2 linked regions of the Homo sapiens genome follow. The protein of the gene in region 1 interacts with the protein of each later gene in a pairwise test. Each region holds a gene or a part of one and is shown on either strand. Other genes may lie near its edges. The genes, in order: TSPAN33 and CHRM2.

Region 1 (3,827 bases):
TGGGGGTGTTACCACTTCTCCTCTGCACACTGCCAAGTTAAAGAAAACCCTGCTTGCTGGAGAGGGAGGGCCAGACAGGGAGGAATTCAAGGGCATGTATGGCTCAGTCCCACTTCTGACTGCAGAGTATAGGGACCAGGGTTCCAAACTTTTTTTCGAAGTAAGGGAGGTGGGGAAGAATTTGGCTGCTGTTGTACCCCGTGTCCTAGCTGCCATGTTTCCATGGAAATGAAGGCGGGGCAGGATGTAGCTCACTCTGACTACCTGGGAGGATGGCAGGACAGGCATTTGGTAAACATATCTCCCTCCACTCCTACCTAGCACATACGGCTGTCCCCAGCCGACCCCCAGGCTCTCTCCTCACTGCCTGCTCCACTCCCTTCCCTTCTGGAGCTGGTATCATGCCAAGTGGAGTCCAGGCAGGGCTGCCAGTGCTACTCTCCACAGCCAGGTCTCACTGGCACGTTAGGATCTAAGTATGTCCGCCAAGCTCAGGAGCATCCCTGCTAGAGCTGGTGGTGGCAGTGCCTCGGTGAAAAGGCAGCAGCAGTACCCCCAACTCTCTGTGCAACTGCTGTTTCCCAAACAAAACTGAAAACATAAACCCAAACACTTAAGGGTATCACTCTGGCACAATGCTGAGGGCTGGGATGGGGGAGAGGAGGCGCATCCTCCTGAGACTGGAGCCACCTGTGCACCCTGCCTTCTGCCCATCTGGAGTTTGCTTCTTCCCACTGGGCTGTCACTGGGGGGCTGGAATCCAAATCTCCATTTGGTGCTGCTTTCAGCACCCACTGCTGTTCGTTTATGAGGCTTGCCAGTTTCCATGGTGAGGAGGTGCAGGATGGATTCTCAGTACCATGGGTCAGCCCGGTGCTGCTGGTTGTAGAGCTGTAGCTTGATCTGATCTTTGATCTGATTCACTAGGATCTGGGACAGCAGAATTCCCACCAGCTGGGAGAGGCAAGAAGGAATTGGGCACTCAGCAGTGAGTGATGGCCTTGTTTTCCCTGGCTCGATCTTCCCAGTGCGGCCAGCACTATCCCTTTCCCTACCCCTCAGCCATGTCAGTGCCTGACACCCTCGCTGATCCCCAGGTGCCTTCCCCAAAACAAAGGAGTCTTTACAGAGTGTGTGGGACCAACAAGTCTCACAGGGTAAGTTACCTGGGGGATGGCCAGGCCTAGAGCCACACCACCAAGTAAGAATAGGTTGCTGTGTATCCAGTTGACCAACTTGTCAATACAGCCATTGGTGTAGATGACTTTGCTAGCTTCCAAGTAGTCAAAGGCCTGCATACCTTGGCCACACATAGTGTTGATCACTGCCTGGGGAAAGAGTTGAAAAGCCAATTGGGACTGTAATTCCAATAACTTTTTGTTTGGGGCCTTAGCTGATGGGCTTCCCACCCTTCCCAAACTCCTAAATTGTCAGAGAATATATGTGGAGGATATTGGGTTGGAAGTTGCCAAATGCAGACTTCCCTTCCTCTGAGAGGTCAGGATCCAGGTCTCTTTGCTCTGGGTGGTGGAATAATCTGTACAACAAACCCCTAAGACACAAGTTTACTTATATAACAAACCTGCACAGGTACTGAATCTGAACTTAAAACTTAAATCTGTCCCTTCTGAACTCCATGTGGACTACATGAGTATGAGGTTAATAGAAGCATCAGGTTGGGGTGAAGAAAAACACCTGACAGCTGTCCCACATGACTGATCGGTGAAGCTAGGGGATGGGGATCCCCAGTAGCAGCTGCCCCCATCAGAAAGTGACTCAGCTCGCTGCCTAGGAGGAAATGAGGCAGGATGCTGGCTCACCTGGTCAGGAGTAGGCAAGCAACAGGAGTAAGGCACAGAGCAGCGCTCTCGACTGGGGTTGTCTTCTGAGCAGTTGAAATACATGTTCTGAGACCAGTCCTTGTAGGAAATCCCTCCACAGCAGCTAAACTGCAACAAAACCCACCAGAGGTTAAGAATCACCCACCCCTCACACTGAGGTGACCAGGGGAATTCTCAGAGCCACCAAAAGTCTATAGCAAGCTTCTACTGGGAACTTTAGGTTGTGTTTTAACACAGCCTTAAACTTTGAGCTCCAGCTTCCCAGTTGCCTTCGCCTGAAGATATTCTCACTTCTTAATTTCTATTACTTCGTATATCTTGTTATAACTTACCACTGTGCTTGTTGGTATTACAGTTGTACATATATTTTGTTTTACATACTCAGCTATAATCTTCTTGAGAGAAGTTTCTGGCTTTGCAGGCAAATGGAAGTGATCAAAAGTATTGGCTGAAATAATTACAGTATCAGTGCTGAAAAACTTCTCCTTAAGATAGAGAAAACACAGGGGAGGAATCTTCAATATTGTGAGTCAATCATTACTCCATGAGAGCCAACTGGATCTCAAAGTCAAGTGTCTATTGCACCAGAGGAAGGGGAACTCAGGACTTGTCTCAGAAGCACTTTTACTTAAAAGTTAACTTTTTTGGCCAGGTGCTGTGGCTCACACCGGTAATCCCAGCACTTTGGGAGGCCGAGGAGGGCAGATCACCTGAGGTCAGGAGTTCAAGACCAGCCTGGCCAATATTGCAAAACCCCATCTTTACTAAAAATACAAGAATTAGCTGGGCGTGGTTTGGCAGGCACCTGTAATCCCAGCTACTCAGGAGGCTGAGGCAGGCAGATTCACTTGAACCCAGGAGGCGGATGTTGCAGTGGGCCAAGATCACGCCATTGTACTCCAGCCTGGGTAACAGAGCAAGACTCCGTCTCAGGGAAAAAAAAAAGTTAACTTTTATTTTTCACTTATTTATTTTTGAGACGGAGTCTCTGTCTGTCACCCAGGCTGGAGTGCAATGGCATGATCTTGGCTCACTGCAACCTCCAACTCCCAAATTCAAGCTATTCTCGCACCTCAGCCTCCTGAGTAGCTGGGACTACAGGTGTGCGCCACCAAACCCGGCTAATTTTTGTATTTTTGGTGGAAACAGGGTTTCATCATGTTGGCCAGGCTAGTCTCAAACTCCTGACCTCAAATGATCTGCCTGCCTTGGCCTCCCAAAGTGCTGGGATTACAGATGTAAGCTACCATGCCTGGCCTAATTGTTAACTTTTGATTCATAGCAGCCTTGTTCACAGTAGCCGAACGGTGGAAGCAACCCTTTTCTCCACTGGTGAATGAATGGATAAACAAAATGTGGCATATACATACAACAGAATATTATTCAGCCTTCAAAAGGAAGGCAGTTGTGGCACATGCCAAAACAGAGATGAAACTTGAAGACATGCTAAGTGAAATAACCCACTCAAAAAAGCATTAATACCGTGAGTCCCTTCATTTGAGGTACCTAGAGTTGTCAAATTTACAGACAGAAAGTAGAATGGTGGTTGCTGGAGGAGAGGAAAATGGGGCTTTAGTGTTCAATGGATACAGAATTTCAGGAGAGGAAAATGGGGAGTTAGTGTTTAATGGATACAAAGTTTCAAGAGAGGAAAATGGGGAGTTAGTGTTTGATGGATACAGAGTTTCAAGAGAGGAAAATGGGGAGTTAGTGTTTGATGGATACAGAGATTCAAGAGAGGAAATGGGGAGTTAGTGTTTGATGGATACAGAGTTTCATCTGGGGCAGATGAGCGTTCTGGAGATGGTGGTGATGGTTGCACAACAATTGAAGGTACTTCATGCCACGGATCTGTATGCTTAAAAATGGTAAATTTTACATTATGTAAATTTTATCACAATTTTTTAAATGTAATTTTCTTTTTTTTAGTCTAGTCAAGTGCAGCAGTGAGAAGGGGGGAAAGAGTAGAACAAGGAGTTGGATCTG
Region 2 (3,827 bases), 7.8 Mb from region 1:
CACCCTAGGGCTCCTGGTGTAAGTCCTGGAGTTCAAAGCCCGGTCTGCCTGGAATTCTGATGTCCAAGACCGCAGAAGAAAAGTCTATCACAGTTTCCAAGACAGATCAAGTCACCTTCTGAAATTGTTCTCACTGGGCTCTGGCCAATTGGATGATGCACTCCAACACTGAGGGCAAAATTCCCCATCTAGTCCATTCACACTCAAACACGAATTGCCTCTGGAAACACCCTCACAGACACATCCGAATTAATATTTTATCAGGTTTCTAGGTATTCCTTAATTCTGCCAAGTTGACACCTAAAATTAAGTTCACAAGTCCACCACTTGTCAGCCTAGTGTTCATATACATCTCCTCAAACTATATGTTATTTCCAAATAAAAGCAGTAACAAGGTGATGGTTCCACCTAACATGATGCAGGCCAATGTGATGAGACCATCCTGCATGCAAGTGAAATGCCAACCCCTTTTCCAGAATTCAGCTTTCAGGATTTCAACATTCAGAATTTTAATCTTTCAGGATTGTAATTTTGGGGATTTTGGACCTTAGCAATTTAGATCCTCATCAAACTAGTTGATTTTGAATCCCTACTTTTCAACATCAGTGTTATTCATTATTCTCCAGAGGAAATTATCAAAAATCTTTTAAAAACTAGAATATAAGTCCTATGCTTTATCAAAATTATGAATAATTAAAATGCAGAGTCAATACATTCATTTTTTGTATTTTTCAAACTAAGTGAATTAATATTAACATTTCATGAAACAGATACACATATAGCTCAACTCCAAACTGTCCATGAATTTATCTAATAAACAGAGAAAATGCTGCTTATAAGCAAGTCACAATTCTGATCTTACAGTTAGCTGAGCTATTAAGAAATTGTTGGAATAAGAACTGGGATAATAAAATGTTTTTGTTCAAATAAATTACCATGAATATACAATTGTATGATTAATTGCAAAAAAGGATTGTCAAAGGGAAATCCGATTAAAATAATTCAACTGATCTAAGTTGCATTCCATTAACATCATTTCCCTGATTAAACTCTTCAATATTTCCCAATGAGCTGCAGGCATACATATGTAATATTACATATAATCACCTTTTTGCTTAAATAAAATTATATTCTGTAATAATCTATGTCTCACTATGATTATGTCATCTTCTAACTATATAACTTTCCACAGCAATGCCAGGACACAAATATCTACCTGTTTTACTAGCCGCATAATATTCCATTGTAAGAGTATTCCATAATATATTTAACCAATCCCTTGTCAATGAATAGTTTTAATATATCTCGGGATTTTTTTGCTATAACAACATTTCTGAGTGAACATACTTGAGTAGACCTCTTTGTACATTTTTATGACTCTATCTGAAAGACACATTCCTAAATGTGGCATTCCTGAGACAAGTGTTTCTTAATACATTTTTATAGATACAGATTTAAAGTTCTATAGATATAGATACATTATCCTTCGTGGTGATTATCCCGCTAGTCCCACCAAAAGTATTCAACACTACCATTAATACTACGGATGGAAAATTGTTTTTCACTGTCTGGATTTGCATCTTTAAACTGTGGGGTTGAGTATCATTTCATATGTTTAAAAGTCATTAATGTCTAATTTTTCTTTGATTGAACTACTACATCAATGTTTTAGATTATTCATCTTTCATCTTTCCTTTTTTGCCAAAACTCTATTATATTAAAGACATTGGATAATTTTCTATCGTGCAATTTACAAATATTGTTTCTCAATTGTTATTTTGACTTTTTTGCTCTATGCAAAAATTTTAAAGGAATATGCAACAGTTACATATATTTTCCTTTCTGGCTTCTGAATTTTGGGTCTTATTATATTAAGGCCAAATCCCATTATTTGGGTTTTGTCAAATAAAATACTGGAAAACAATTGACTTTCCAAAGCAGAAAAAATTATTTTTTTAAATGTTATTTGTGTTATGAAGTTGCTTACCAAATTATTTTCTACATGGATTTCAAGGGCAAACCACTGCCCATTTCTTTGTAATTAATAGCATCCAAACTAATCAATATTCCCAAATTTTAATTTCTCAGCAATGCTTATTTTCTGACAGCTCACAGCAATTTTTTCAAAAAGAGGTGGAACTTGGGCTAGTTTCTGCTTCAGATGCTGTTTCTCCAGAAATGTGTCATATCTCTTTGATGAATTCTTAACTTTCTTTTCTAAATCCCCAATATACATTTTCCATTATGAAAGATCACTCAATTGTCATCAGACTTCAATGATATTATCTCAAAAATGATGATTATGTGTTTACTTACACACAACAGGATAGGGAAACAAGAAGTGCATTCAGGTTTAATAATTGCTTCTTCATCAACCCATGTCTGCCACCAGGCAGAGACCTTGTTTTAATCATCATTGAACGTCCAGAACACCTAATTAAGAGAAGCTGCTCAATAGATATGTGAGCACAAAGTGAAAGAATGAATGACTGAACAAACTGGGATTTCATCTTTCTGAGCCTTAGTTCCTTCTACAAAACAAAAAGTTTGGCAGAAAGAATAGTAAGATAATAGATTTGATAGTGGTTTGAAAAACAAAACATTCAGAAAAGTGGTATTTTCTCCCATAATTTTGTCTTCTTATTGATGTATTAATTTGTATGTCTATTCCAGAAATCTCTTTATGCTTTGGAAAGTCTTATGCATAATTTTGGCTTTTTCAGTTCAATATGCATTTAATAAGCAAATATTCTTGTGTAAGATATGGAATATTGGAAATGCTGATTATGTAATACTGATTACAAGTATGAAATAAAATAGAGGCAAGAGGAAAATAATTCTCATCTAGGGAGAGTATACTGGCTATTAAGTATTATTATATTATCTTTATTTTCACCATCCTCAGTGTTATTGTGAAAAAGGCTTAGAGCTTCCATGAGGAAAGGCACTGTTAACTATAAAAGTCACACATTCAATATTATACATTCTATGCTTTCTTCTATAATTGTGTCCTCTCACTAATTTACTAATTTTTATGTCTATTCCAGGAATCCCTTGATGTTTTAGAAAGTGTTGTTTGTAATTTTGGTTTATTTAATTCAATTTATCAGTATTATGCTAAGTTTCATGGATTGATGAGATATATAGGTAGATAGGTAGGTAGATAGATACTCATATCTGGATAAGGACATATTTAAAACATTACTGGACTTCAAGTTCATTGCCAGCCTGAAAGGTCCTTTTGAATCCTCCATTTGAAGGTCTTGCTTTTTACATGGGGAATTGAGGCAGGTAGACACAGTAATCATGCAGGGGAAGGGAGATTTGGGAGAAAATAATGTGGTTTAAAAGGAGAAACAACATTATGTATTTTAAACCAATGTTTATATTATGTTTGTTAATTTTATTCTATTTCCTTGCAGGTTTAAATGTTTATTTGCTACTTGGCTACTGATTAGAGAACGCAAAATGAATAACTCAACAAACTCCTCTAACAATAGCCTGGCTCTTACAAGTCCTTATAAGACATTTGAAGTGGTGTTTATTGTCCTGGTGGCTGGATCCCTCAGTTTGGTGACCATTATCGGGAACATCCTAGTCATGGTTTCCATTAAAGTCAACCGCCACCTCCAGACCGTCAACAATTACTTTTTATTCAGCTTGGCCTGTGCTGACCTTATCATAGGTGTTTTCTCCATGAACTTGTACACCCTCTACACTGTGATTGGTTACTGGCCTTTGGGACCTGTGGTGTGTGACCTTTGGCTAGCCCTGGACTATGTGGTCAGCAATGCCTCAGTTATGAATCTGCTCATCATCAGCTTTGA

What was found.
Region 2: the proteins of TSPAN33 (region 1) and CHRM2 interact in a two-hybrid assay, tested with the Homo sapiens proteins (one large-scale study listed by BioGRID and IntAct).

The regions. Positions count from the first base shown.
Region 1 is NC_000007.14:129,164,900-129,168,726, reverse strand, and holds part of TSPAN33 (tetraspanin-33), read right to left. Parts: exon of another isoform or gene 3,769-3,827; intron 1,950-3,768; coding exon 1,821-1,949; intron 1,329-1,820; coding exon 1,167-1,328; intron 955-1,166; coding exon 853-954; 3' UTR 1-852. UniProt on the Homo sapiens protein: Part of TspanC8 subgroup, composed of 6 members that interact with the transmembrane metalloprotease ADAM10.
Region 2 is NC_000007.14:137,011,398-137,015,224, forward strand, and holds part of CHRM2 (muscarinic acetylcholine receptor M2), read left to right. Parts: intron 1-3,422; 5' UTR 3,423-3,468; coding exon 3,469-3,827. UniProt on the Homo sapiens protein: The muscarinic acetylcholine receptor mediates various cellular responses, including inhibition of adenylate cyclase, breakdown of phosphoinositides and modulation of potassium channels through the action of G proteins.